Homo sapiens: one gene and its partners. The protein of the gene in region 6 purifies or fractionates together with the protein of the main gene of each other region. This does not show direct contact. Each region holds a gene or a part of one and is shown on either strand. Other genes may lie near its edges.

Region 1 (3,621 bases), on a different chromosome or scaffold from region 6:
TGGCATTATCAAGGTCTCGAATACCAGTTAAGATCATTCTTTTCCCTCAGTTTCTACCTATTTTCAAAAATTAGTATTTTTTCTTTCCAAATGAAAAATATAATATTGCTTTTACTGTTTATATATATCATTTACTATTATGTAACTTTGTTTATGCTAGGCTTTAAGAAATGAGCTCCCCAACAGCCTGAGTTTTCACATGGAATTTATGGCACTAAAACTTAGGGGTTTTATATGTCTAACATCTAAGGAAGCCCTTGGAACAAAACAACCCTTTGTTGATGAGAATGAGCGGGCAAAGAAAGTGGTGAGTGGGGAGCTCTCAGACCTTGACAGCTTTACAAGTTAACATTCATCAGTGTGAACAAATGGGGTTAAACCACATGACATTACCAACGGTCAAAATTCCTGGATGTGAATTACTGTAGCTGTATTATTACCTGTTCTATGTATGTAATTTGATGAAAAAAATGGACTGACCTTGAAGTCGTTCATCATTCTTAGAGAAAAAGAAAAATCTAGTGGTCTCTTTCTCAAGTAATGATGCTTCTCTGAAAAGAAAGGGACAAAGGAGAGAGAAAAATAGGTATTGGTTGGTTTAATTTCAATATTTAAGAAGAAATATTTACATTCAAAACATAAATACACTATTTCTTAAATATATCTTTTTTCATTTCCCCCTAGAATCCAGGTGAGCGAGACTCTTAAATATATCTGCTTTGTATTTTGTGCATTTTGCCCTGAGTTAAAACAACCCTCCCTCTAACATTCTTCTATCTGAAGCTTTGATAATGAAGACTTGTTTAAGTAGAACCTCTATCTTTCCTGTGTTGGTTGCTGATACTCTCACTCCCACCATTGCTACCCCATTTGCCAGTGCCTCCCATGGGTAGGCACCCAGTCAACTGCAACATCCTGTTTCCAGACCAGTGACTTCACTGTCAGGCCACCTTCCCTTTTCTATGCACAAACTATCTTCCCCTTAGTGCTATCCAAATCTCATGGAAAAGGAAACACACTCTCCATTATAAAAAGGCTAGAGAACACTCTAAAGAAACTGAGATGTCCAGGCTCAGTGGCAGGGCGCCTGTAATCCTAGCACTTTGGGAGGCCAAGGTGGGCAGATTACTTGAGGTCAGGAGTTCGAAACCAGCCTGGCCAACATGGTGAAACCTCGCCTCTACTAAAAATACAAAAATTAGCCAGGTGTGGTTGGCACGTGCCTGTAATCCCAGCTACTTGGGAGGCTGGGACAGGAGAATTGCTTGAATCTGGGAGGCGGAGGTTGCAGTGAGCTGAGATCATGCCATTGCACTACAGCCTGGGCGACAGAGCAACACTCCGTCTCAAAAAAAAAAAATAAAATAAAAAAAGAAGCTAAGACAATTTAGTTGTCATGTGAAGAGAAGCTAAAATATTTCTAAAGTATGTCTAATTCAGATTTTACAAATTATGAACTATGCCTGCAAAGAAACAAATTGTTTACCCAGGACTGGAGTTTCTGTGATCTGTTTCTTCAGTAACATCTTCCTCTTCTGAACTGCTGTCTTGTAAACGAGGGTCTTCCTGCCAGACAATCTTTCCAGGTTTCACTGTTTCAACTCTGTAGGTCTCTATATCGTTATGACAACAAAAGATGATGGGATTGTAACTCCACAGCCAAGTATTTCTGAACACATTCATTTGATTACTTTTACCACGTAGACATATCTAAAGTTCCAATATGTTAATCATTAATTTAAAATAGTATCAAAAAAATAGGTAGTATCATCTTTTTAGATTTTTCAAATATTTTCAGAAGCCACTATCATAATTTTGGCATTGCTAGAATGATCTGATAAGGACAGCAGTAATATAAAAAAGGTTTAAAAAATAAAGGTTTATAAATGAGCTATATAATTTTTAAAAATGACACCTAAAATAACCATGGCATCTGTGCTTGCATGAGAAGCCTAAAATATAATAGGATACAGGGAAATCAGGTTTCCCTCTTGTCTATTTATAAATGAGAAAAGGAATATATCTTTACATTTTCAATACCCAAAACTTTTTGCTAGAACTGCTGGAAAAACTACTGCTATAAGATCAGGACAATCACCTCACAAGTCTTCAAAATTTCCCAAGTACTTAAAAAACATCTTTCAAGTTGCTGATGTCTTTAGGACTCGTTTCAAGGTCAATTTCTCACGTTTTGCTCTCAAAGTTAGAAAAACTATCGTTACTATTTACATCATGCCAACTCTACTCAACAGTTTATATAGACAAGAAAATGAAGTCTTATTTGCAATACTTTTTGAACAACTACTAGATTGTTATACTTCCTTTTAAAGTACCACGGAGTTGGTATTATCTGCTAGTGAACCGAGATTGCACCACTGCACTCCAGCCTGGGTGACAGAGACTCTGTCTCCAAAAAAAAAAAAAAAATTATTTTAATCTACCAAACACATGTATGCTATTTTAACTGCTGATCTTTAAAGTAGAATCATTGTAGTTAGGTATGTGTGTATTCTTCTGTATAGGTATTACCTGCTTTTACAGTGGGAACTTCCAGAAAGCTGGAACCCTGGGTGAGGAACAGGTCAGGTGTTTTTTAACCTGTGGCCCATGTTGGCCTTTAGAGGTAAGCCTCTTGAAATGAAATGCAAAACTGTATGTACTAGTGTTTATACTTCTCTCTAGGTTCTGGCAAATCTTCAAGGATAAACTGTGCAATAACTGGCATATTGATGACATGGCATATTTGTGTAAAACCAAGGTTACCTATATCTTCTTTTATCTTATATATAGCACTAGTTTTCCATAAGTCATAGCATCTTCAGCTTCATTTAAGATACAAAGCTCTTTATGTGATTTACTATACTTCTTCATGACGTTTTACTTAACAGAAAAGATGCTGTACATTATTCTCTGGCTTCCCTTCATATGGCAGCTAGTAGAGATTTGCTTCCTTAAATGCAAAAATAGTTTCTTTCACAGCTTCAGGAACATCGTGTTTATGCTCCTGTGACACTAAATCTCAAATCTTCTAGGTAGAAGAAAGAGTCCTTTCTTCAGCTAACATGAAATCTGTTACACTTAATGCAGATTCAATCAATTAAGTTCAAACTGAATAAAATAAAAAAGTATGGGAAAAAAGAAAAGTACCTTCCTTTATGTCTTTAGTGTCTGAATCAAAAAAAGAGAACGTGAACCCGCTGGGCTGCTCAGCGTCACTGGTCAGAGCTGCAGGGTCCTGGATTTCCTCAGGTTTCTCTTTACCACAGTCCTCATTCCAGGGTGTGCCCTCTTCCTTTTCACTGGTATATTTTGTAGTTTGGAATATTTCTTTCAGATCCATAGCAATATTATAATACATTTCTTTAGACACCTCAGGTAGTTTCTCAGCTTCCTCCCTTTTCTTTTTTCGTTTTGCTTTACTGAAATGACATATGTAGACATGTGCATCACAAAGAAACAAGTTTTGGGAAATTTCCAGAAATCAAGAAAAGAAAAAATCTTGGACAACTTTAATTCTATCCTATCAACAACCAGAATATAAAACTCTACTTATAAATAGAGAAATAAAATAAGTAAAACTCTACATATAGAACTCTACTAATAGAAGCAAAATCTTGATCA
Region 2 (4,875 bases), on a different chromosome or scaffold from region 6:
GTAGCTGGGATTACAGGCACCTGCCACCACACCTGGCTAATTTTTCTATTAGTAGAGATGGGGTTTCACCATGTTGGCCAGGCTGGCCTCAAACTCCCAACCTCAAGTGATCCGCCTGCCTTGGCACTCAAAGTGCTGGGATTACAGGTGTGAGCCACTACACCCGGCCCATGAGAGCCTTTAATAATGGATAATGAACATAAGTAAAAAGGGAAAGTTACGAAGTATATAAAATGTGATTTCACAGAGTATGTCAAAAAAAGTCTGGAAAAATATTTACAGAATAGTAATGAAATTTTATCTCTGGGTAATGGAGTTATGATTATTGCTCATCTGTATTTAGCTTTTCTATAAGAATCTGCTGGGCTTTTTTGTTTTGTTTTGTTTTGTTTTGAGACGGAGTTTCACTCTTGTTGTCCAGGCTGGAGCGCAATGGCACAATCTCGGCTCACCGCAACCTCCCTCTCCTGGGTTCAAGCGATTCTCCTGCCCCAGCCTCCCGAGTAGCTAGGATTACAGGCATGCGCCACCATGCCCAGCTAATTTTGTATTTTTAATATAAACAGGGTTTCTCCATGTTAATCAGGCTGGTCTCAAACTCCTCACCTCAGGTGATCCGCCCAACTCAGCCTCCCAAAGTGCTGGGATTACAGGCGTGAGCCACCGTGCCCGGCCTTGCTGTTTGTATTTTAAAAAGTAAACAAGTCAGGCTATTTTACAAAACATTTCTTCCTCTCATTCCTGTCCTTGGGCATTGCCTTCTTGAATTAATATAGTATCTCTTGGGGCAGAGGATTTGAAATGGGCTTTTACTTTGTCTTGCAGGTTATCTGGGATACACTAGGAAACAAGCAATTTTGTTCCTTCAAAATAAGGTGAGTCTCAATTTACAACTTGGTCAAAGATTCCTTCAGTTGCCTCTTTGGCAACCCATTTTATAATCTTTGTTTCTTTTCTCCCATTCTAGAACCAAGACTCAGAGCTTCTGCCGAAATGAATATAGCCTGACTGGACTGTGTAATCGGTCATCCTGTCCCCTGGCAAATAGTCAGTATGCCACTATTAAAGAAGAGAAAGGTAACTCCCCAGTTTTAACTTCTAGAAGAACTGCTCCACAGCTTTTACAGGGATGTTCTTTAGTTTCTGTAAATAACACTAAAGCTATTTTACTTTATCTTCAGGACAGTGCTACTTGTATATGAAGGTTATAGAACGAGCGGCTTTTCCTCGGCGTCTCTGGGAACGGGTAAGCCTTACAACAAAACTACAGTGACCGCTGATCAAGAGCATCAAAGCCACATGCTTGACCATGATGCCCAATTCCATGACCATTAACTTTTGAGGCCATCCTCATTAGGCCATGGGTGTCACTGACAGTGAAAACCTAATGAATCATTTACACTTGCCCTTCAAACTTCCTGTTTCTGTTTGGTAGGTCCGGCTTAGTAAAAACTATGAGAAAGCACTGGAGCAAATAGATGAAAATCTGATTTACTGGCCCCGTTTCATTCGACACAAATGTAAGCAGAGATTCACCAAGATCACCCAATACCTAATTCGAATTAGAAAACTTACACTAAAGCGACAGTAAGTATTTGGATCATTCATTATTTTTAAATCTCTCTTTTTATGGAGCTTGTTTTGAAGTTGAGAAATTGTGAAACTTCGGGGCTTTCTATTCAACTTTGTGGAGTCTGTTATGATGTACTAAAGAGAAACTTTAGCTTTGACTAAAGGTGTGCCCTTTGATATGGCAGGACTTTTAAAACAGTAGAATACAACTTGATTATCACCCTCCTTGTCTGAAAATCTTTCAGAAAATTTTATTTTCTTTTTTGTTAAGACGGAGTCTCACTCTGTCGCCCAGGCTGGAATTTGCAGTGGCGCGACCTCAGCTCACTGCAACCTCCATCTCCCCGGTTGAAGCAATCCTCCCACCTCAGCCTCCTGAGCAGCTAGGATTACAGGCATGGACCACCATGCCTGGTTAATTTTTTTTGTATTTTTAGTAGAGATGGGGTTTCACCATGTTGGCCAGGCTGGTCTAGAATTCCTGACCTCAAGCGATCCGCCTTAGCCTCCCAAAGTGCTGGGATTACAGGCATGAGCCACCATGCCCAGCCTTCAGAAAATTTCCTCTATGACCCCCGAGGGAATCTTAACTTTAGAGATTTGAAAATGATCTAAGACATGTGACTATACAGGAATGTAAGAACTTTACTCTGGATTCACTGAAAACTAATTTTTAAAAGTGATATGAAATCCCCAGAATTAACAGAATACCTTCTCTAGGACTGTTAGGCCCTAATGCTTTTTGACTGTGATCTACATAGAATGCTAAAGATGATGTCAGACTTCGACAGAAAATTCTTTTTTCTTAGTTCACTGAAGTCTTAATTTTAGCATGGTGAATGCCCTGAGAATCCCAGAATGCCTGAACAAAAATGGCCGGATTAAAATACATGTAAAAATATATGACTTTTTATAGTATTAAATTTCTAGAAGCGTTTAGTGTATCTTGCTGTATTGAGCTGAGCCCTACAGCACCAACCTTGGGCTCCAAGGCTTGTTTGAATCGCTAGCCTCCGTGAATGCCTGAAGCTCAGCCATCCTGCCCTGCACATGAGTAGACTTCCATTTTAGTCACCAATTCCAATCCTTTTTTCTTCTCATCCTTAAAAAGGAACACAGCACATGACAGTGGATTTTCTGATATATTTTCTTTCCCTTAGGAGGAAACTTGTTCCTTTGAGTAAGAAGGTGGAGCGTAGGGAGAAAAGAAGAGAGGTAACTTATTGTTGAGATATTCATACCTTCTACATTTTCTTTCTGGGGGTCTCTTATAGATTCAGTCACCATCATTATGTAAACTGTTGAGGCCTTGGATAATGGTTCACTAATAGATAACTATTAGTTGCCTAAGACATTTAATTTTTCATATTTTAAGATTATGATTTTCAGCACAGGTTAAAGTATGTGTGCTTTGGGGATATATGTAATGGAGAACAGAAAGAATCCACAACTCCTTTTTCTGAATTTCTTGTGGTCAAATATTTCAGACTTCAGAATTTTGATGTTGCATATTTTACATACTACATAAAACCTTTAGTAGATTTTGAGCATTCTAATCAAATGGAATTTCTGCAGTGAAATACAATACAGGCATGCAGTGAGTAATAACATCATGGAAAATTGGGTATCCGTCCCCTCAAGCATTTATCCTTTGTGTTACAAACAGTTCAATTATCCTTACAGTTATTTTAAAATGTACAATTAAATAATTGACTATAGTCACGCTGTTGTGCTGCTAGCAAATACTAGGTCTTATTTCATTCTTCCTATTTTTTTTAGCGGGGGTACCCATTAATCATCCCCACCCCCATTACCCTTCCCAGCCTCTGGTAACCATCCTTCTACTCTGTATATCCATGAGTTCAATTGTTTTGATTTTTTGATCCCACAAATAAGTGAAAATGTGCAGTGTTTGCCTTTCTGTGCCTGGCTTCTTTCACTTAACATAATGACCTCCGGTTCCATCCATGTTGTTACAAATGACAGAATCTCATTCTTTTTAATGGCTGGATAGTACTCTATTGTGTATAAGTACCATATTTTCTTTATCCATTCATCTATTGATGGACACTTAGGTTGCTTCCAAATTTTGGCTGTCGTGAACAGAGCTGTAACACACATGGAGTGTGGGTATCCCTTTGATACACTAATTTCCTTTTGGGTCTGTACCCAGAAGTGGGACTGCTAGATGGTATGGTAGCTCTAGTTTTAGTTTTTTGAGGAAGCTCCAAACTGTTCTCCATAGTGGTTGTACTAATTTACATTCCCACCACCAGTGCACAAGGGTTCCCTTTCTCCACATCCTCTCTAGCATTTGTTATTGCCTGTCTTTTAAAAGATAAAAGCCATTTTAACTGGGGTGAGATATTTCATTGTTTTGATTTGCATTTCTCTGATGATCAATGATGTTGAACACCTTTTCATATGCCTGTTTGCCATTTGTATGTCTTCTTTTGAAAAATGTCTACTCAAATCTTTTGCCTCCCCAATCCCTGCCCCCTGCTTTTTTTTTTTTTTTTTTTTTTTTGAGACAAGGTCTCACTCTATTGTCCAGGCTGGAGTGCAGTGGTGCGATCTTGGCTCACTGCAACCTCTGCTTCCTGGATTCAAGTGATTCTCATGCCTCAGCCTCCCAAGTAGCTGGGACTACAGGTGCATGCCACCATGCCTGGCTAATTTTTATATATTTTGTAGAGACGAGGCTTCACTATGTTGCCCATGCTGGTCTTGAACTCCTGGGCTCAAGCAATCCAACCACTTCAGCCTCCCAAAGTGCTGGGATTACAGGTGTGAGCCACCATGTCTGGCCCTTTTATTCACTTTTTAATCCAATAATTAGAATTTTTTCCTATAGAGTTGTTTGAGCTCCTTATATAGTCTGGATTTTGTTTTGTTTTGTTTTTGAGATGGAGTCTCATTCTGTCACCCAGGCTGGAGTGCTATGGGGCAATCCCAGCTCACTGCAACCTCTGCCTCCCAGGTTCAAGCGATTCTTGTGCCTCAGCCTCCCAAGTAGCTGGGATGCCAGGTGTGCACCACCATGCCTGGCTGTTTGTTTTGTATTTTTAGTAGAGATGGGGTTTAGCCATGTTGGCCAGGCTGGTCTCGAACTCCTGACCTCAGGTGATCTACCTGCCTCAGCCTCCCAGAGTGCTGGGATTACAGACGTGAGCCACCGCGCTGGCCTGTATTCTGGTTATTAATCCCTTGTCAGGTGGATAGTTTGCCCAGTCAGTGGATTGTCTCTTCACTTTGTTGTTTCCTTTGCTGTGCAGAAGCTTTTTAACTTGATGTGCTCCCATT
Region 3 (4,875 bases), 5.1 Mb from region 6:
CAAGAGGTATGTGTTAAACCTATTTCTGACCATTTTGGAAGAAGGATATCATTTATTTTATTTTGTTTTATTTTTGAGACAGAGTCTCGCTTTGTCCCCCAGGCTGGAGTGCAGTGGCGCGATCTTGGCTTGCTGCAACCTCTGCCTCCCAGGTTCAAGCAATTCTCCTGTCTCAGCCTCCCAAGTAGCTGAGATTACAGGCGCCTGCCACCATGCCCAGCTGATTGTTTTGTATTTTTAGTAGAGACTGGGTTTCACCATGTTGGCCAGGCTGGTCTCAAACCCCTGACGTCAGGTGATCAGCCTGCCTCAGCCTCCCAAAGTGCTGGGATTACAGGCATGAGCCACTGTGCCCAGCCAGAAGGGTATCATTTTTAGTCATTGTGGAGTCTCTGTCCTGGAACCATCCCCAAGTGACTCTACCTGGAGTTAAATTGTATTTCATTATGCAGGAAATCTTGATATAATAGCATTTTACTTATCTGTAAATTACTTAAGAGACACATTGAGCTACAAGGTTTTTTGTTTTTGAGACAGTCTTGCCCTGTCGCCCAGGCTGGAGTGCAGTGGTGCAATCTTGGCTCACTGCAACCTCCACCTCCTTAGTTCAAGCAATTCCCCTGCCTCAGCCTCATGCCACCAAGCCCGGCTAATTTTTTTGTATTTTTTTTTTTTTTTTTAGATGGGAGTCTCACTCTGTTGCCCAGGTTGGAGTGCAGTGGTGGGATCTTGGCTCACTGCAACCTCTGCCTCCTGGGTTCAAGCGATTCTCCTGCCTCAGCCTCCTGAGTAGCTGGGATTACAGGTGCGCACCACCACGCCTGGCTTATTTTTGTATTTTTAGTAGAGATGGGGTTTCACCATTTTGGTCAGGCTAACCTCAAACTCCTGACCTTGTGATCTGCCTGCCTCTGCCTCCGAAAGTGCTGGGATTACAGGTGTGAGCCACCGTGCCTGGCCAATTTTTTTCTTTTTTTTTTCTGAGATGGAGTCTCACTCTGTCACCCAGGCTGGAGTACAGTGGTGCAATCTTGGCTCACTGCAACCTCCGCCTCCCGGGTTCAAGCGATTCTTCTGTCTCAGCCTCCTGAGTAGCTGGGACTACAGGCGTGCACCACCACGCCTGGCTAATTTTTTGTATTTTTAGTGAAGATGGGGTTTTACCATGTTGGCCGTGCTGGTCTCGAACTCCTGACTTTGTGATCCACCTGCTTCGGCCTCCCAAAGTGCTGGGATTACAGGAGTGAGCCACTGCGCTCAGGCGTGCCTGGCCAATTTTTTTTGTATTTTTAGTAGAGACAGGATTTCACCATCTTGGCCAGAATGGGCTCGAACTCCTGACCTCAGGCAATCTGCCTGCCTCAGCCTCCCAAAGTGATGGGATTACAGGCGTGAGCCACCAAGCCTGGCCCACTACAAAGATTTTTAAACATTACTGCATTATGGCCGGTCGTGGTGGCTGATGCCTGTAATCCCAGCACTTTGGGAGGCTGAGGCGGGCGGATCACAAGGTCAGGAGTTCGAGTCCAGCCTGGCCAACATGGTGAAACACTGTCTCTACCAAAAATACAAAAATTAGCCAGGCGTGGTGGCGGGTGCCTGTAATCCCAGCTACTAGGGAGACTGAGACAGGAGAATCATTTGAATCCGGGAGGTGGAGGTTGTAGTGAGCAGAGATCATGCCATTGCACTCCAGCCTGGGCAACAAGAGCAACACTCTGTCTCAAAACAAAACACCATTACTGACTGCATTACAAGGAAGACCGCTTTCTTTTGGATCTCTATGAAATGTTCTAGAGCTCTGTAAATTCTGTCTCTAAAAGATCCTGTCTTGATTCTCATAGTATCGTTTTTTTAGATTAGTACAGGAAAAAGAATGGTACATGAGCCTAAATTGACATATTGGGCTAGAGGTTTAGGGACTTTTAAAAAGCAAAACTGGCCGGGCACGGTGGCTCATGCCTGTAATCCCAGCACTTTGGGAGGCCGAGGCAGGCAGATCATGAGGCCAAGAGATCGAGACCATCCTGGCCAACATGATGAAAGCCCATCTCTACTAAAAATCCAAAAAAATTTAGCCGTGCATGGTGGCGTGTGCCTGTAGTCCCAGCTACTTGGAAGGCTGAGACAGGAGAATAGCTTGAACCCGGGAGGTGGAGGTTGCAGTAAGCTGATATTACGCCATTGCCCTCCAACCTGGTGACAGAGCGAGACTCTGTCTCAAAAAAAAAAAAAAAAAAAAAAAAGCAAAATCAAGAGTCTATTTGCAAGCAAATTAACTTACAAATTTTTTTTTTAGAGGCAGGGTCTCACTGTGTTGCCTAGGCTGGTCTTGAACTCCTGGCCTCAAGCGATCCTTCACCTGGGCGTCCCAAAGTGCTGGGACTACAGGCATGAGCCACCCCACCTAGCCATTAAATTTTGCTTTTTTTTTTTAAATTTTTTTGAGACAGAGTTTCGCTCTTGTTGCCCAGCCTGCAGTGCAGTGGCGCAATCTCATCTCACTGGAACGTCCACCTCCTGGGTTCAAGTGATTCTCCTGCCTCAGCCTCCCACGTAGTTGGGATTACAGGCATGCACCACCACGTCCGGCTAATTTTGTATTTTTAGTAGAGACGGGGTTTCTGCATGTTGGTCAGGCTGGTCTCAAACTCCCGACCTCAGGTGATCTGCTTGCCTCGGCCTCCCAAAATGCTGGGATTACAGGCATGAGCCACTGCACCCGCCTTACTTTTTGTTTTTTTTTTTTAAGAGAGACAGGGTCTTGCTTTGTCACCCAGACTGGAGTGCAGTGGCGTGATCACAGCTCACTGTAAACCTCAAAATCCTGGGCGAAGTGATCCTCCTGCCTCAGCCTCCTGAGTAGCTAAGACTGCAAGCATGTACCACCACACCTGGCTAATTCTGAAAATTTTTTTTAGAGATGCGGTCTCACTATGTTGCCCAGGCTGGTCTTGAACTCCTGGTCTCAAGTGCTCCTCTCATCTCAGCCTCCCAAAGCGCTGGGATTACAGGTGTGAACCACTGTGCCTAGCCAGTTTACCATTTCGTAGCAATAGAGTATTGTTTCTTTTTTTTTTTTCTTAAATTTATTTTTTATTTTTATTTTTTTGAGATGGAGTCTCGCTCTGTTGCCCAGGCTGGAGTGCAGAGGTGTGATCTTGGCTCACTGCAACCTCCGCTTCTCGGGTTCAAGCGATTCTCCTGCCTCAGTCCCCTGAGTAGCTGGGATTACAGGCATGCGCCACCACAGCTGGCTAATTTTTGTATTTTTACTGGGGGCGAGGTTTCCTCATGTTGGCCAGGCTGGTCTCGAACTTCTGACCTCAGGGTGATCCGCCCACCTCAGCCTCCCAAAGTGCTGGGATTACAGGCATGAGCCACTGCAACCAGCCGAGTTTTGTTTTTTGTTTTTGTTTTTTTTGAGACAGAGTCTCACTCTTGTTGCCCAGGCTGGAGTGCAATGGTGCGATCTCGGCTCACTGCAACCTCTGCTTCCCGGATTCAAGCGATTCTCCTGCCCCAGCCTCCCGAGTAGCTGAGATTACAGGCGCCTGCCACCGTGCCTGGCTAATTTTTTGTATTTTTTTAGTAGAGACGGGGTCATGTTGGTCAGGGAGTATTGTTTTTTAAGTAATATTCACTTAAAATGTTTTAGATTTTATAATATTCTGGTTTTCTTTTAAATTAGAATGTCAAATTACACACTTTTTATTTTCATTTGGATAGAAGGTGTCTATGGAATGTAACTTCTTTTTTTTTTTTTTTTTTTTTTTTTGAGACGGAGTCTCACTCTGTCGCCCAGGCTGGAGTGCAGTGGCACAATCTTGGCTCACTGCAAGCTCTGCCTCCTGGGTTCACGCCATTCTCCTGCCTCAGCCTCCTGAGTAGCTGGGACTACAGGCCCGCACAACCATGCCTGGCTCATTTTTTTGTATTTTTTTAGTAGAGACGGGGTTTCACCGTGTTAGCAAGGATGGTCTCGATCTCCTGACCTCGTGATCCGCCCACCTCGGCCTCCCAAAGTGCTGGGATTACAGGCGTGAGCCACCGCGCCTGGCCGGAATGTAACTTCTTAAAGTAAATGTTATCATTGTTGATATTGTATTGAAGTTTTCTCTGTGATATACCATATCCTATGGGCTGAAATTTCCAGCATCCCTTGGGGAGTGGAGGCCATCAGGGCAGACCTGCTATGGACCTGAAAGATTCCGCCCCAGGTCAGCCCTCCACTCCCCACCTCCCCACAATTTGAGAATGAGAGGGAACAGGAGTCAGGAGCCGGAGTGTTGGCCCCAGTAGACTCCAATCAATGTTGGACATGATTCTGATTGGCTAAACACTGTGTAGATGTTTTTAAACAAAGTCCATTTAAGGTTACTGCACTAATCAAGGAGTACTGGATTATAAAAACATCTATAAATCTGAGTTTGAGTATTTTTTAAAACAAAATTGTTAAACCAGATGTGTTGCTTTTTTTTCTTGTCATCTCTAAGTATAGTCCTCAGTTAAATATACTAATAAGCAAAATGCACCAAAACTTTTGGCTAATAGTTGTGCTTTAACTTAATATTTGTTATTTCATAGAGACTGCTATGAAAAGCTTTTTATTCTGAATCACTGTACAGTTATTCTTTGATCCTGTCAGTCAAATCTCATTTTTAGGGTCTTGACTAGGTTTTATGAAAGCCCAGTAAGGCAGTTTGCCCATAAGGCAGTCATCAGTCCTGTTTCCTGATGCCACATGACAGAAGGGGTCCATGTAGAATTTCGTTTCTTCCTGGAAGTCCCAAGGAAACCTGCAAGTATTATGATAACTAGGAAGGAAACCTGCAAGTATTATGATGAACTGGGAAGGAAACCTGTAAGTATTAT
Region 4 (3,500 bases), on a different chromosome or scaffold from region 6:
GTAAATTGTAACCTGATACGTGTAACCTAGCTTGACATTTTTGGGAAGGGTGGGAAGAAGTGGGATATGTCCAGGTAAGAGCATCTAGGTTCACATTATTTTTCTTGTTTTATATGGGACTTGTGTTTTAATCTAATTTTTCCCCGTATAGCCCAGGAGTTCTGTTTCCGAAGAAAGAGCCAGATGATTCTAGAGATGAGGATGAAGATGAAGATGAGTCATCAGAAGAAGACTCTGAGGATGAAGAGCCGCCACCTAAGAGAAGGTGTGGACATGTGAAAACCCCTTGTGGGGAGGACACTAAATACCTCAGAGCTGAAAAATAGTGCTATAGGAGGGGCTAAAGCTAAAAAGCATTTCAGAAACTCAGGATCCTTCTCAAGTTCTTTATATAAATTTGGATTGATCTTCTCCTTTGAAAATCAAGGGCTCCAGACTTTTAGGGCAAGCCTGTGTGTATCCATAGTTTAGTTATTCAAAGAAAAATAATTACATATTTCCCTAGGAACAACGTCATGAAATTGTGTCTAGACTTCATGAATTGGTTGAATTTTTATACAATTTTAGTAAAATCTCTAGTAAAAAATTGTCACATTCCTATTCTTAACGTAAGTGACCACTTCATATGCCGTTTCTCTTTAGAAAGCATCTGGTTGTCCCAACAAAACGAATCTCTTAAGTACTAAATGACGGCCTTTGCTCTTTGGTTCTCACAGGTTGCAGAAGAAAACCCCAGCCAAGTCCCCAGGGAAGGCCGCATCTGTGAAGCAGAGAGGGTCCAAACCTGCACCTAAAGTCTCAGCTGCCCAGCGGGGGAAAGCTAGGCCCTTGCCTAAGAAAGCACCTCCTAAGGCCAAAACGCCTGCCAAGAAGACCAGACCCTCATCCACAGTCATCAAGAAACCTAGTGGTGGCTCCTCAAAGAAGCCTGCAACCAGTGCAAGAAAGGAAGTAAAATTGCCGGGCAAGGGCAAATCCACCATGAAGAAGTCTTTCAGAGTGAAAAAGTAAATTTTATAGGAAAAAAGGGTATCATGATGAAATTCAAAATCTTATTTTCTAAGGTCAGTGTGCATTTGTTTAGTTTTGATGCTTTTCAAATTACATTATTTTCCTCCCCTATGAACATTGTGGGGAGGGACTCTAAATAAACCAGTTTAGGCATTTGCTAGCTTTAGGTGCTTTTATTGGTGCCTGCCCTTTTCCTTGTTCATTTTAATTTCTGCAATAATCCTGGACTTTCCTAAACTATGTAATGTATACTTGTCCTTTTTCTCTGCCTCCCCCAACCCCCTGTTGTTTTTATGGTCAGCTTTGCCTTTTTTTTTTCTTCCAATTTTATCTAAACAGTTGCAGAGATTTTTATATTTGTAGAAAGCATCAAGAACGGTATGCCAGTCAGGTCCTGGAAGTAAAATGGAGGCACAATATAGCACTGACTGAGTTGTAAAGCCTCCTGCCTGGAGACTTCAGTTATAGCTGTAATAATTAATCTTATTTATAAAAGCCACTCCACTAACCTTTTCTCTCCAACTGTAAACACAGAGACAGCTTTGGGAATAAGCCAAAAACAGGGTGATCTCATTAGATTTTGAAGATATATGACTCCTTTGGGCTACATTTCATATTGATCAATTTCTAGGTATTTTTCACTGGCCCAAAGTATTGCATTCCCTTAACAGCAAGCACAAGTTCTCTATATCACTTGTTTTTTGTTGTTGTTGTTGTTGTCGTCGTTGTTTTGAGACGGAGTCTTGCTCAGGTGCCCCGGAGTGCAGTGGTGCAATCTCAGCTCACTGCAACCTCCACCTCCTGGGTTCAAGCAATTCTCCTGCTTCAGCCTCCCGAGTAGCTGGGATTACAGGTGTGTACCACCACGCCTGGCAATTTTTTTGTATTTTTAGTAGAGATGGGGTTTCGCCGTGTTGGTCAGGCTGGTCTCGAACTCCTGACCTCAGGTGATCCGCCTGCCTCGGCCTCCCAAAGTGCTGGGATTACAGGAGTGAGCCACTGTGCCTGGCCTATCCCACTTGGTTTTTGACTGAAGGGGAAGTGTAGAAATATATTGATTTGTGATTTCTGGTGTCACCTGTGTTACCAAAAATCAAAACAAATCTTTTTTATTTTTTATTATTATTATTATTTTTGAGACAGAGTCTCGCTCTGTCGCCCAGTGTGGAGTGCAGTGGTGTGATCTTGGCTCACTGCAAACTCCGCCTCCCAGGTTCAAGCGATTCTCCCACCTCAGCCTCCTGAGTTGGGTCCTACAGGCGCACACGACCACGCCCAGCTAATTTTTTGTATTTTTAGTAGAGTTGGGGTTTCACCATGTTAGCCAGGATGGTCTCGATCTCCTGACCTCGTGATCCACTCACCTCAGCCTCCCAAAATCCTGGGGTTACAGATGTGAGCTACCACTCACGGCCCAAATCTTCTTGATCATATGTTTAAATATATTTTTTAATATTTGGAGCATGAGTTGTCACTTCTTGTTTGCCTTTTTTATAAGGAAATGTTGGAGAGTTACATCATTGCTAATGTAGAAATGTTAAGTGGAAAAATATACAGTTTGGTAAAATAAACTAGATTCTACATTTATTTGTGGGTTTTTTTCCCCTCCTTTCTTTCCACAGCACTTTTGATATCAAGCAAGTGGCTTCCTTTTTGAGATATTAAAAAAAAAAAGAAAAGGAAAAAAGTAAATGAAGCCCAACTACCTAACCCTTTCTTATTTGTATTTGTTTTAGTATTGTGAAGTTGTGTTAAATAGTACTAGCTAGAAATACAAATTTCTGGTTATCATTTCTCTTCCCTGTGGCACTTGACATTTTAATTGTCTTAAAGTTTTTGAAGTACATCTTCTGGCCCCTTGAGTACTGCCAGAGGCAAAAGATGTTTGTTTCTTATTCATTCCACTTTTGTCTCCTGGGATCCCTTCTGTAGCCTAAAGTATGGCTGGGAAATGGACTTGAGAAGATTGGCTTGAATTAGATCATAATCATGTGTGATCCCATCATGAATTCATTGGAATTTGTGTTGCATGTAAGGCAATCTTTCCTGTTGTAAATCTTCCTTTTTTAATGTACATATATTTTGAAAAATATGAATAAACATGAAATTTTAAAAGCTGCTGAACCGTAGCTTATATTTAAAGGTTTTGAGTATAGTATATCCTCAGAAGTAGCTAAGTGTCGCCCTCACTTTAAGTCTTTTCTACTCCTTGAAATGAACACCATCATTTTCCTTTTTAAATACAAGCTCCAGTTCATGTGTTTTGGAATTCTTATAGAGGGTAAACGATGTTTCCAGATACATTGAATGCTAATTACTTAATGAATCAAAGGTTTAAAAAATCATTTTGTATTTTATTAAAGACTGCTTCCAAGATCATAGAGTACAATCATGTTCAATAAATGTTCAATATTCAGATAAGTCCTTGGACTAGAAAAAATTACAGTACTGCAAAAGATAACAGATAAATCCTAGACATCAAATTCTAG
Region 5 (4,875 bases), on a different chromosome or scaffold from region 6:
TATCAAAGTGCTAGCATTACAGACATGAGCCACCGCGCCCAGCAATAAAAACTTCCTAGTATATTCACTAGCACTCTGATACCTATGATAGTGACATAAGGGCAGCCTAACATAACGATTTCTAAATACTGCATTGTCGGCCGGGTGCGGTGGCTCAAGCTTGTAATCCCAGCACTTTGGGAGGCCGAGGCAGATGGATCACCTGAGGTCAGGAGTTCGAGACCAGCCTGACCAACATGGGGATATCCCATCTCTACTAAAAATACAAATATTAGACAGGCGTGGTGGCAGGTGCCTGTGATCCCAGCTACTCGGGAGGCTGAGCAGGAGAATCTCTTGAACCCAGGAGGGAGAGGTTGCAATGAGCCGAGATTGCGTCACTGCACTCCAGCCTGGAAGACAGAGCGAGACCCTGTCTCAAAATAAATACATACATACATACATAAATACTGCATTGACTTCAGTCTTTGATATCACACAGACAAACCAGAAGGCAATGAAAACTGAATAAACTTGTTTTCTTTCAAGTCTAATTTAGTATCTATTAAAAAATGGCTTTGGGAGTGACTCACTGACTGGTAAAAAACCATCTCTCCTTACAGGTCAGAAAAAATTTCAATTAAAATTTTTGTTAATTAAATTACTTATTTCTAAGTTAAATAGCATTAGGAATCCTTATATATGGTTCATAGAATATAAAAGAAAAATGTCTCAAAGGGCAGTTTCTTAATAACTCACCTGGATTCACTTTTTCGTTTTACTGTTTCTAAAAACAATGTTGAAAAACTTTTTTTAGCTTGTCGTTGAATTTCATATTCTGAATCTCGTATTCTATTCTGAGATGATCCTGATGGTTTTCTTTCTTGTCCTTCCGATGTTTTATCCTCTTCATCTGATACTTTATTATCTATTTCTATTTTCTTTAACATAACTTTATCATCAAAGTTTAACCTAAAAGGTTAAAAGGAGGGTAAGCTGAATGCTCCCGTAACGTTTCTTGAGTTATAAGTCTTCCTGAACTCCTTTACAGAGACAATACAGACCAATTTAAAATTCTGTACTAGGCATTTATTTAAGACATAAATGCTGATTTGTGCATTCCAAATACATAAGATAAACTGCTCAGGAAAATTAACTTTTGTATTTATCAATAGAAAAACATGAAAGAGAAAATAATGGCTAAAGTATACATCAATGAAATGTATAGCTAGGCAATGGTTCTCAGGGCAATCTTAGAGCACTGTGACAGACCAAACTTTGAATATCAAAGTCTTAGAATATACTTAACTCCTTGGCTCCAGTAATCATACAATACTCTAAATAGAAATTACACTCATTACAGAGATCTCCAAATGCAAAAGACCTTGAATCCACTTTGTTTCCTAAAGGCCAAAGGTAAGGTCAAGAAAGAGAAACCAGCTGTCCACAAAGCATAGCATCCTCAATAATACTTATGCTCTGCTACCCTTGAAGTGACCTGATACACATCTACACTTGCAATTACAAAAAATATTGAGAAAATACAAATTGTTTCTCTTAGGAAGCAATCAAATATTATCAGAGAGAAAACACATTATTCCAGACTATAGAAAAGTTAACCTCTAAACTTCTCTGAAGTACACTTTAAGCCCTTCCTTAATTATTACAAACTGAATATATGCTAAATGTATACTTTCTCATAACATGTTAATATTCCTCCTTCCTTAGTGTAAAATAATATAACAAGATTGAATTACCATTTTTTAATACAAAAAGTAAAATTTTTAAAGTGCGTTAACATTATTTAAATAAAATGTTACCTTTTTTTGGTTTTAACTGAAACCTCTGTACTTGAAGGCAGCATATTTACTGAATTTTCAAAAGTGTAAGTCTCTCTCTTTTGGGCACTAGATGGAATAACATTTTGTGATACAGATGTTTTTGCATCCAAAAGAACAGAAGGTGAGCCAACGGATAAGTAAAATTCTTCATCAGCTTCACTGTGATGATCATTTATGTTTCTACTTGATATTTTTTTCGAGTCAGGTGTATTTTTGGAACTAACATCAGTTGCCAGAATTTTCTGATGAACTTCATGGGCCTGAACTAGAAGAAAATTATATAAAGATATTTGTCAATTAAAAGAATAATAAGAGAATCAAGCAGGCTTTTTAAAAATTCTGCAATAATTTAATCAGAAATAGTTTTCAGAAAACTCAAAGTCATTAAGATTAGAATCAAAGATCTATGATTAAAATAAGTAAGTACTTAAGATTCTTCTATCTTTGGGCTAAAAATTGGTGACCTAGGGCAGCTAGATGATATATTTACACATACACACATGGAATATAGATATAACAGATATAGAGAGATACAACATAAGCATGTGTGTATATATACATACACAGTATATATGTATATGAACATTTATCTATAATGAGAAAATTTAAAAGAATGTATCCATATTCTCTTAACCCTCACCCTTCAGAACGAGATGGCATTTCCCTGCTTCTCCCTCTAAATACAACTAACTTCCCTGGAAATTATCCATCAATCAACAACAGGACTCTGAAAGCTGGAAGAAAAAAAGGTAGACTAGCTAGGAAGCTCAAGACCAGAAACAGACAAGCCTTAGGTTTTCTGTCTGTCTCCCATATACCCCTGGACTGGTTGCTAGTATAACCTGTAACCACCAATAGGTGAAAGACAGGGTGGAGGCTGGGTGGAAATGCATTCTCTGAACAAGGTAAACCCACCGAAGACCTAATGAGGAAACTCAAGCCCCATTCAGCACTCTCGGCCATGGAGCACTCCTTACTACCTGCATTGGCAAAGCAACAAAGCCCTGGGCTGTGCTATGGGACTGTAGCAGTAAAGGAGCTCATACCAAGCCAGTCCCGCTTCTACAATCATAGATGGCAGGCGGTATGACCCACATGAAGCTGTAGAGTAGTGAAACCCCTGACCTTCACAGCCCAAGGCAACATTTTGATCCACTGATAGTATTGACACCCCAGGCCATCCCAGTCCCTACTTTACAACCAGGGCACCAGCAGACAGTCTAATCTGAGGCAAGAACAGCGTAAGAGAGGCCAGCAACCCCCTGTCCTCCACCCAATGATATAAGGAAACCCAGGACCAGCAGCTTCTAACCAGAACCCCACACAAGTGAACATGGACATCAAAAGGCATCTTCTACCCACCCCAGACAGCACCAACAGGAACTGAGCTAGAATCCTAACAGCATCAGAAAATGAAGTAGAACAAAATACCACTATTACTCTGAACACTTAACTATCATTGAAAATAAAACTCATAAAACTAGGAAAGAGGGGCTGGGCGCAGTGGTTCATGCCTGCAATCCCAGCACTTTGGGAGGCCAAAACGGGTGGATCACTGGAGGCCAGGAGTTCAAGACCAGCCTGGCCAACATGGCGAAACCCCATCTCTACTAAAAATACAAAAATTAGCCAGGCGTAGTGGCACATGCCTGTAATCCCAGCTACTCGGGAGGCTGAAGCATGAGAATCACTTGAACCCAGGAGGCGGCGGTTGCACTGAGCTAAGATCACACCACTGCCCTCCAGCCTGAGCGACAGAGCAAGACTCTGTCTCAAAAAATAAACAAATAAATAAATAAATAAATAAATAAATAAATAACACAGGAAAGAACCTATACATTAAACCAAAATAGGGCAACTATGTGCTGTAACAAAAGATTTAAGTAGTCTAAGAATCCCCTAACATAAGTAACCAAATCTCAGGAATACAATCAAAACAACTCGTCATACCAAAACCAAAACAAACCAAAAAAAAAAAAAAGTAAGAAATAATGATCAATAGACATAAATGAGATGAATCAGATTTTAAAATTATTTAACAATAAATTTTAAAGCAAACATCATAAAATGCTTTAATAATCAATTACAAATCCTCTTGTAACAAATGAAAAAGAAACTCTCAAAGTAGCATTTTTTAAAAAAAAGTTTTTTGGATATTAGCCATTATCAGTAAGTAGTGATTTTTAAATATTATTTTAAATTTTCCTAATAACAGTGATGTAAAACAAATCAAAACTACAATGAGATACTACATCACACCCATTAGGATGACTATTATTTATAAAAACAAAAGATAACAACTGTTGATGTAGAAAAAAATGGAACCTTTGTGCATGCACTGCTAGTGTGAATGTAGAATGACAGTCACTATGAAAAGTGCACAGTGGATCCTTAAAAACTTAAAACTGAAAGCAGGAACTCAAAGAGATACTTTCACACTAATATTCATAGCAGCATTACTCACAATAGCCAAAAAGCGAAAACAACCCAAGTGCCCATCAACAGATTAATAGATAAAAAGTGGTATACACATACAATGAAATATTACCCAGTCTTAGAATGAAATTCTGACACATACTACAACATGGATGAACCTTGAAGACATTATGCTTAGTGAAATAAGCCAGTCACAGATAAATTTTCTGTCTGAAATTCATGGACAGAAAAAAGTAGAATGGTGGTTGCCAGGGCTAATGGAAAAAGAGATACTGTTTAATGGGTACAGTGTTTCAGTTGTGAAAAATGAAAGAAGTTCTATGGATTCATGGTGGTGATAGCCTCACAACAATGTGAATGTACTTAATGCTACTGAACTGTATACTCAGAAATAAAGTGGACAATTTTATGTTTATATTATACAATATTTTAAAATACACTTCTTTAAAAAAGAGCAAAGGAAGTGACGTGTGTATATAAACAAACTAAAACAAAAAGTCTTGTAAAGTTAAAAAATATTAAAATACCTGACAACAGAAATAACTAACAGTAGTATTTAAGTTGGGAATTCGTTGTTTCAGTTACCATGTCTGCATAATATAACTTCTTAACTTGGCTG
Region 6 (4,875 bases):
CAATCTTGTTATGCTCATGGAGGGACCAAAGCTTCTTGAAAGCTTTGCCACATGTCACACACTGCAGAATAAGAGGACTTGAGGCCCTGGGTCCTGAGTCCCCAGGGTCTTGGACTTGGGCAAGCTACTGCCCCCGTCTGGCCTCAGTTTTCCCACTTGAAATATGCTGGAGAGCCCTTGATGCCAACAGCCAGCCAGCTCTGATGTTTCTAAGGTTGGGGATGAAAACTCCTTAAACACCCCCAAACACACAGCCTGGTGTCCTCCTTCATCCTTGAGTTAACTAGGGTCAGGGGTCACCTCTTCCAGGAAATTCCCCACTCTGGGCTCATTTCAACAAGGGCTTCCAAAGGCATCACCCTTTGTCTGTCTATAGAGGTAAGGCAGACAACTAGCTGAAGGGCGCCCTCTGGTATGGAGGCTACACGCAGAGATAACAGGTCCCACAGAGTGAGCCATTATCACTGCTGCCTCCTCCTGCTGGGACCTGTGCCATGACACCATGAATATCGCCAAGAGGATGAGTCCCAGAGGCGTTGGCTGAGGAGGACAGCAGGAGGCTCAAGGTCCCATCAGGCACAGAGAGTGGTGGGGGATCTTGGGGACCATATCCCCCCATTTGTTCTCCTGGACCCTTGTCCTGCCCATCTATGCAGGACACCCCACAGGGATGGAGGCTAGGCCAAGGCTTGGGCAGAAATTGGTCAGGGTACTCAGGTTGGATGGGGCAGAAGCTTCTTTTTCCTTCAGGAGGGAGACTCAGGTGCGCAGCAGTTAGAGCATCAAAGGGCAGCCCAGCAGGCGGGCAAGTGGGCACAGGTACACAAGGGTGGGGCAGGATAGCAGGTGACCCCCGGGTAACACTTTCTCCACAGGGCACTGCAATTAGCAATTAGCGCAGGCAATTAGCACCCACCTACCTGCTACCTTTCCCCCTTCTCCTGGGCCAGAAGAGGTGAAAACCACCCGTGGGAGCCTGGCTGGCCCTGTGCCACCCCACCCTGAGAAGTGAGGCTGGCACAAACAGACTCAGGCTGGCTCAAGGCCCAGCAGCCAGCTCAGCTCCCCTGCTTACCCCAGCAGCCTCTGCTCTTCCCAAATTTCTCACCCAATCCCTTTTTCCCAGGCCCATGGGAGCTGGCATCCCCAAAGAGCTGAAAGTGGGGGCTGCCTCCTGCTGGGCTGCCCCCTCCTCCATACAGCACTTTTGTGGGAAGTGGAGGATGGCATCCCTCTGGGCAAACCCCTCCTCCCATCGTGTGCTCACTTGCTGCAGTGCACAACCTGTGAAACTATACACAGTGGCCCTGCTGGCCTTCCTACAGCCCCCGTGTTTGTTAAAACCCCGTCTGACTCATCCCACCCAGAGTGGCCTGTCTTCTGGCCTTGTCTGCTCAGACAACTCTCCACTCTCATCCTCCCAAGTCCATGTGTCCCCTTTGTCCCTCTGGCCAAGGGTACTGTTTGTTCCAATCCTCTGCACATCTCTTCATGCGCCCAACTCTATCCACCTCTCCCAGGAAGCTCGGCTTGATGTTACCCCTGAGCTCTAACCACCCTGAGAACTGGGCCTGGGCCAGCCTGTCTGGGGGCTAAGTCTGGTCTCCGCAGACCACCTAGGTAATGCAGTCAGCAAGACACTAGGTGCCCAGAGCCCAGTTATGGCCTAGCCCCACCTGGACAGCCTCTGCCCTGCCCCCAGCCACGTGAGGCCCACCTGGATGTTGCGCTCGCAGTCTGTCTGCCTGTGCAGCAGCAGCTCGCTCTCCAGCAGGAAGCGCTTGCCGCACTGGTCGCAGATCTGCATGCGGCTGTGGGTCACATTCATGTGTTTCTCCAGGTACCAGCGGTTGTTGAAAACTCGTGGGCACTTCTGGCATGGATGGTGCTGCTTCTCCTCCAGCTTCACCTTGGCCCCCAGCCCATCAGTGGCTGGCGGCCCTCGGGCCGATGCAGAGGCCACTCCAGGGGGTGGCTTTGGCCTCTTCCCACCCCGCCGCCCAGCTTCTTCAGGTTCAGGGGTACCCCGGCGCCGGGCGTTCTCCCGGGACCGTGTGGCCATGTGACTGTGGGGAGGGGGGTCTGCCCGGCTGCTTCGGCTTCCCCGTGGCCCCTGCTTGCCCCCAGCCTCCCCCTCCTCCCCCTCCTCCTCCTCAGAGCTCTCTTGATCCTGCTCACTAGGCCCTTCCTCCTCTTCCTCCTCCTCTTCCTCTTCCTGCTCACTGTGCCCGTCCTCCTCCTCTTCTTCCTCTTCTCCCTGACTGCCACCCTCTTCCTCCTCCTCCTCCTCCCGTCCACTGCCACCACCTTCCTCTTCCTCTTCTTCCTCCTCCTCCTCCTCGTCGTCCTCCTCCTCCTCGTCCGAGTGTCTCTGCAGCCCGTCCTCCCGGCCCAGAACCACGGTGGCTGGGCTTGGCCCGGCACCTGGCTTCCCCTCTGGCCCCGTGGACACGTGCAGTGTCTGGTTGTTGAGGTTCACCTCCACGATGATCTGGGATTGCTCCCTGCGGCTGTAGGTGCCAGAACCCCCAAGCTCTTCCTCCAACTCTTCTCCACCCTCCAGCTTGCACAAGCTGGCTGGGGGCCCACCGGCCTCCTCGACACCACCCTCCTTCTCCTCCTTAAAGAAGGGCTGGGCTGGCCCAATGGTGGCAGGCACTGTGCCACCAGCAGTCCCTGCCCCGTCCTCAACACGCACCGAGTAAGGGTCAGGGCCCTCGCGGGCATAGATCTTGGGCAGGCCTGGGGTGTCGGCCTCCTGCTTGATGTCACAGTAGTAGGGCGGCGCAGCTGGAGTGCAGCTGGCAGCCGGCTGGGCCAGGGCCACAGTGCCCGGACCTGGTGGGCCTAGAGAGCGGGCGTCCAGCAGCTCTTGGCAGGACGCAGCGATGTCAGCCATCTGCAGCAATGAGGCGGCGCTGAGCACCTCGTGGACGTTGGCCGCGTTGACCAGCAGCTTGGACGTATAGATGAAGTTGAGGATCTGCTGCAGGCCACCAGGTGCCAGTGCCTCCAGGGACAGCTCCACACGCTGCAGCTGCTTGTTCTGGGTGAAGAGTGAGTGGAAGAACTGGCTGTAGGCGGCTAGCACACCCTTGTGTGCCGGAAAGACGCTGCGCTGGGGCACCAGCACCAAGTCCACGTCGCAGAGGTCAGGCTGGAAGAGGCGCTGCTCGTTCAGGCGGCCCATCAAGCAGGCAAAGTGCAGCGCCACGTCCTCCACCAGCGAGAACTCAGCCGCCGGGGAGTCAGTTGTCTTCTCAACCAGCAACTGCGGGGACAGAGGGCACAGGAGTGGGTCAAGGCCAGTGGGCCCCTGCCCGCCCTTCCCCCAGCACCACTCCCAGCATTGCCAGCCATCCAGGAGGCAGCCCATCACTCGTGGCTCCACTTTACAGCAACAGAGCCGAAACTAGCAAGGAAGGGATTCAAGCCTGAGTGAGCTGCCTCAGAGCTCAGGCTCCACTCGTGACCCTCTGAGGCTGAAGATCAGGTCCTGTCACTTTCTGGGCCTCTGGGTCATCTCCTGGGAAATGGGAAAAGTCATCCCAGGAAGGGAAAGGGAAGGAAAGGGGATGAAAGAGAGACCACAGTGACCAACCATCCAGGTTTGCCAGGGACCTGGGCATTTTCTGGGGTGCAGGGCTTTCAGTGCTAGAACCAGGACCATCGCAGGCACACCGGGACCAGGTGGTCACCCCAGGAGGGCCACAGGCATTCCTTCAGCATTTCCTCAGCCCCGTGGATTCTCTCCACATATTCACTCACACATACCAATAAAAGCAAGCTTGCCCAGCCCCAAACACCTCAAGAACAGAAGCCGGGCTCACTGCTCACTGCCCAGTCTCTGGCTACAGAATCCAAGGGGTAGCACCTGAGGGAACCCCTCATCGCAACAGCCATGTGGCTGCTGCAGAAGTTGAAACCTGTGAAGAAATCCAGGCTCAGGGCCTATACCTTCTCCCCACTCTGGTCCTGCTGCACTGCCTGGTGAGGTCTCCTCATCACAGCCAGGGCTTGGGCCAGGCTGCCCCCAACCCCTGCCTGCAGCCTCAGGCCTAGCCCCCAGCAGCTCTCTCTCACTCAGGGGCTCTGCAGGGGTGGAAGGACACAGCTGTGGAACCTGCCTACCATGCTTGCAGGCAGGAGGCCCCCAAGGCCTGCCCCAGATCCTTTTCCCGGTAGACCCCCAGACCCCAGGTCAGGTACGGTCCATGTCCACAGGCTCTGGGAAAGCCCTGCCTTAGAGGCCACACCATCTGGGGCTTCCAGAGCCCTAGCGGAGGCCCTCAATGTCTGATGGGTCAGACTATCAGGCCTGTGGGCCACATCCAGCACCTGTGAATTGCCTGGAATAGAAGCCAACTCAGTCACCCCGGCTCTACCACAGCAGCCTCCCCAAAAGGTGGGCAGCACAGACAGGCAGCCTGCCCAGTCCCTGCACGAGAACCATCACACAGTGATGTGCAGATGTTGTTAATATCCACCAACCACCAGCCCAGCTGGACCAGCACCACTGGTTCCAAGTTCTGGCTCTCCTCAGGGCCTGCCCAACCAGGTCTGAGCCTCCTGCATTCGGGAGGTACCTTGCCACAATATTTTGATGGCCACAAAACCATCAGCTCCATAGCTGTCAGTGCCTCCCTGGGGACCCTGGGATGAATCCTGGCCCCATCCATCCACAGCCTACCGCCCCCCTTCCCCATGCCAGGCCTTCCATCGCCAGGAGAGCAGTGGGTAGGCTGGGATTGGGCAGGGGTGGTGGTGGTTGAGCTCCACTTCTCAGTCACCTGAATGAGAAACCTACCGTGGGCCTCAGCAGGAGCCTCCCTGAGCCACCAGGGGCCACCTGTCTCCAGGCCTGCCCTGGACCCT
Region 7 (3,500 bases), on a different chromosome or scaffold from region 6:
ACTTGGGAGGCTGAGGCAGGAGAATCACTTGAACCCGGGAGGCGAAGGTTGTGGTGAGCCAAGATTGTGCCACTGCACTCCAGTCTGGGCAACATGAGCAAAGCTCCGTCTCAAAAAAAAATTAAAAATTAAAAATTAAAAATAAATAAATAAAAAGCTCTTGAGATCAGTGGTGAGATGCAGTTCAGTTCCTGTTGAAATGCATTTATTGCTTCCTGATAAAAGTCCAGTGGGCAACCATTACCCGTCTGTGTGTACACATCTAAACACAACTGCCAGCTTTCCCAACAATCAACCTGAACAGCCACATCCTTTGAAAACCCTTACTGGTTTGACTGCCAACCTATAGGTAACCAAAGTGAAGTCTTTACGCAGATGCCACAGCTTGCTTCCACAGCTGAGCTAAGATAAAACATTTCAACTCTCCCTCTAGAGGGTTTTGGGGTTACAGTGCAGTGGCAAAATGAGAAGGATCTTGTGATGTGGGGAAAGAAACCAAGGGAAGCCTGGGTGGCTCCTAATCCTCCTTACTAATGGGAATTCTCTATGATTTCCACTTTTCCATCCTTATCTCCACCCTATTTCCCCACACAGCTAATATTCCTTTTGAGCCAGAGAAGCCAACATTCCTTGAACTGTGCCATGGTTTTGCTCCCTCAATTCCTGGAATTCCACCTCCTCTGTACCCTTCCACATCTTTGCCAGCAGGAAGCTGGGATAGAACCTCTTCTCCTCCCAATGTAACCATATGCCCAGTAATTCCATACTGCTCCACTGTACCTGAACTTTATTCACAGCTGGCAAACCTCTGGGAAGGAGAACCCACCCCACTTTGGTCACTAATACAGTGTCCCATGGTAAGCGGCACCTACCTGGGGAATGCCTGCTGAGTTAAAACCCAAAAGACAGAATTTACTGGCACCTGCTCCAGGGATGTGCCAAACCTGTAGCATCTGCCTCAGCAGGAAACACTAACCACACTGTCTACAACCCTCTGACAGGATATCCAGACAGCCATGACCACTGCACTGTCTGGTGAGGAGGGGGGACTTCAGGGCCAGAGAAGGAAGAAATGGTTCAGGGAGAAAATGCCTCCCACCTTCAGTCACTCCCCTTTTCTCCCTTTTCCCAGGTATGTTGCTCTCAATCCTTTCTACAAGTCTCCTTGTTCAGCTGTTGGCAGAACCATTCCTTAGTTTTCAAGGGTTATGCTGCCAGAGTCCCACAGCAAGGTGCTCTGCAAGGGAGCAGCACAATCCCTTCATTAGCACTGGGGTTTTAACTGCTTTCTACCTTGACCACATCCATGTATTTTGTCTGCACGGGGAACAGTGGGATATCCTCATCTTTCTTGAGCGTTTTGTAAATCTTCTTAAAGTTGATCACATCCTCAGGCCCAATGAGCATCAGACTGAGGCCTTCATTGGTAGCTCGAGCAGTTCGACCACTTCGGTGGACATAAATCTCCGAGGTACGTGGGACCTGCCACAGGAAGAACTGGGAGATCAATACATGGCCACTGCCAAACACTGGTCCTCTCCTCAGGGCCACATCCCCAAACCAGACCCTCCTACCTCCCAGCCAGGCAGGTAGAAACTTCTGCAGCATTGTAGAGCAATCTAGCCCTCCTCTCTTAGTCCCACATTCAAAATGTTCCCAGGTTTAGCCCATTCACTGTGTAGGCTCTTCCCTCCCATGCCCCTGACCCTGGTTCAGGTCCTCAGGACCATGCAGCCAGACCACAGCAGTCACTTCTTATCCAGGATTTAAGCAGCCCAGCTCCACAGACCATGTTAATCCCTGGGTTATACGGTCTCTACTCCTATATATATTTTATCCATAGATAATGTGGCATGGTTGCTAACACACCCACTGAGCCCCTGGCACACACCATTAATCAAGCACAACAGTCTTCTCCACTGGGCCCAGATAACATCTAGGTATCCTTTTCAATACAGTACTTTAAGTAGCCACTATGAACTGTTCATAAGAGTTCTAGAAATGAGATTTGCCTTTCTTTACTTACAGGATAAAGGCCCAACTCTTCAACCTGACACTCAGCGCCTTTAGTGACTTGCCCTCAACTTACCCCTCCAGCCTCAGCAACTATTCCTTTCCCAACACATACCCTCTTCTCACTGTGAGCCAAGTGCCCCTGAACACTGCCCATTTCTTTGCTCCTTCCTTTAATGCCTCTATATGTCCAAATCCTCTTCACCCTTAAATGCCAGGCATGTTTTTAGAAAGTACTTTCCAACCTCCCAAACTAGAAGTTACCTCTCTCTTCCATTGTATTTTGTAATTTTCTAATACCTTCTGCCTTAAATTATGGCTGTGGTCATCTCACCTCCTCTGCTGGATCCAATACTTCTTAGGGGCTGGGACTGTATTTGATTCATCTTGACTCCACAAAGGTTGACCCAGCTCCTTCCCCAAAAAAGGGAAGACTATAGAGATTTGCTAAACCAAAATTAGCACCTGTGATACAGTGAAATATGTATTTGCTCTTCATCCTGTTTCCTGGCAAAGGAATCTCAAAAGTAATGTCTTTTTGTATACTAATGACAAACTATTGACTGATGGCTGATAGCCCCCCAGGTAGTTTCAGGATGGGGGCTGGTCACCAGAAAGGCCAAGGCAGGATTAGAAGGTTGGGACTTGCAGCACTACTTCCTAAAGGCCAATGGCTTAATTAATCATCTTACCCAATGAAGTCTCCATAAATATTCCTAAAGGACAGAGTTTGGAGAACTTTTGAATAAGCTGAATATGTGGACATTCCTGGAGGGTGGTGTACCCAGGAGGGGCATGGCAACTCCATGCTCCTTCCCCTGTACCTCAGCCTATACATCTCCCCATCTATATTCTTTGTAATATCCTCTATAATAAACTGGTAAATGTGTTTCTTTTAGTTCTGAGAGCTGCTGTAGCAAATTAATTGAACCCAAAGCGGGGGGTCATGAGAACCCCAACTTGAAGCTGGTTGGTCAGAAGTTCCAGAGGCCCTGACTTATCGACTGGTTGCGGGGAGGAGGGACATCTTGTGGGATCTGAGGCTATCTCCAGGAAGACAGCATCAGAAAATGAAACTAAATTAGAGGACACCCAGCTGGTGGCTGCTGCTTGATATGTGGTGAAAAACGCCCACACATTTGGTTACAGAAGTCTTCTATGTTGATTGTTGTTGTGAAGTGAGAGAATGGGAAAAAGCACTGTGAGTTTGTTGTTTCTCTGAAACAGCAGCCTAAAAGATTTTTAAAAGCACAAAGAGGAATTAAAGAGGAAAAATGATAATGCCATACCAGCTACCATTTATTGAGTACTTACACTGTGCTACCGGCTTCATCAGCATCAGCTCAATTTAATTCTCAGGATAACCCTATGGGGTAGCTAGTTGTTACTTCCAGTTTACAAACAATGACACTGAAACCAGAGGTACTAAATAACTTGCCTAAAGCTAACCAACTATGAAGCAGCAGACTGGGGATTCAAAGCCTGGC

The links.
Region 1: the proteins of ZBTB47 (region 6) and NOL8 purify together in Homo sapiens (affinity purification with mass spectrometry; one large-scale study listed by BioGRID and IntAct). This does not show direct contact.
Region 2: the proteins of ZBTB47 (region 6) and MAK16 purify together in Homo sapiens (affinity purification with mass spectrometry; one large-scale study listed by BioGRID and IntAct). This does not show direct contact.
Region 3: the proteins of ZBTB47 (region 6) and DHX30 purify together in Homo sapiens (affinity purification with mass spectrometry; one large-scale study listed by BioGRID and IntAct). This does not show direct contact.
Region 4: the proteins of ZBTB47 (region 6) and HP1BP3 purify together in Homo sapiens (affinity purification with mass spectrometry; one large-scale study listed by BioGRID and IntAct). This does not show direct contact.
Region 5: the proteins of ZBTB47 (region 6) and CENPC purify together in Homo sapiens (affinity purification with mass spectrometry; one large-scale study listed by BioGRID and IntAct). This does not show direct contact.
Region 7: the proteins of ZBTB47 (region 6) and DDX24 purify together in Homo sapiens (affinity purification with mass spectrometry; one large-scale study listed by BioGRID and IntAct). This does not show direct contact.

The regions. Positions count from the first base shown.
Region 1 is NC_000009.12:92,298,404-92,302,024, forward strand, and holds part of NOL8 (nucleolar protein 8), read right to left. Parts: intron 3,420-3,621; coding exon 3,148-3,419; intron 2,408-3,147; exon of another isoform or gene 2,404-2,407; coding exon of another isoform or gene 2,354-2,403; exon of another isoform or gene 1,614-2,353; coding exon 1,487-1,613; intron 552-1,486; coding exon 481-551; intron 1-480. UniProt on the Homo sapiens protein: Plays an essential role in the survival of diffuse-type gastric cancer cells. Acts as a nucleolar anchoring protein for DDX47. May be involved in regulation of gene expression at the post-transcriptional level or in ribosome biogenesis in cancer cells.
Region 2 is NC_000008.11:33,487,553-33,492,427, forward strand, and holds part of MAK16 (protein MAK16 homolog), read left to right. Parts: intron 1-825; coding exon 826-875; intron 876-967; coding exon 968-1,077; intron 1,078-1,181; coding exon 1,182-1,246; intron 1,247-1,435; coding exon 1,436-1,587; intron 1,588-2,732; coding exon 2,733-2,787; intron 2,788-4,875.
Region 3 is NC_000003.12:47,805,482-47,810,356, forward strand, and holds part of DHX30 (ATP-dependent RNA helicase DHX30), read left to right. Parts: intron 1-4,875.
Region 4 is NC_000001.11:20,742,308-20,745,807, reverse strand, and holds part of HP1BP3 (heterochromatin protein 1-binding protein 3), read left to right. Parts: intron 1-151; coding exon 152-265; intron 266-716; coding exon 717-1,011; 3' UTR 1,012-3,500. UniProt on the Homo sapiens protein: Component of heterochromatin that maintains heterochromatin integrity during G1/S progression and regulates the duration of G1 phase to critically influence cell proliferative capacity.
Region 5 is NC_000004.12:67,517,418-67,522,292, forward strand, and holds part of CENPC (centromere protein C), read right to left. Parts: intron 2,086-4,875; coding exon 1,800-2,085; intron 952-1,799; coding exon 739-951; intron 1-738. UniProt on the Homo sapiens protein: Component of the CENPA-NAC (nucleosome-associated) complex, a complex that plays a central role in assembly of kinetochore proteins, mitotic progression and chromosome segregation.
Region 6 is NC_000003.12:42,656,671-42,661,545, reverse strand, and holds part of ZBTB47 (zinc finger and BTB domain-containing protein 47), read right to left. Parts: intron 3,272-4,875; coding exon of another isoform or gene 3,191-3,271; coding exon 1,718-3,190; intron 62-1,717; coding exon 1-61. UniProt on the Homo sapiens protein: May be involved in transcriptional regulation.
Region 7 is NC_000014.9:94,053,703-94,057,202, forward strand, and holds part of DDX24 (ATP-dependent RNA helicase DDX24), read right to left. Parts: intron 1,483-3,500; coding exon 1,294-1,482; intron 1-1,293. UniProt on the Homo sapiens protein: ATP-dependent RNA helicase that plays a role in various aspects of RNA metabolism including pre-mRNA splicing and is thereby involved in different biological processes such as cell cycle regulation or innate immunity.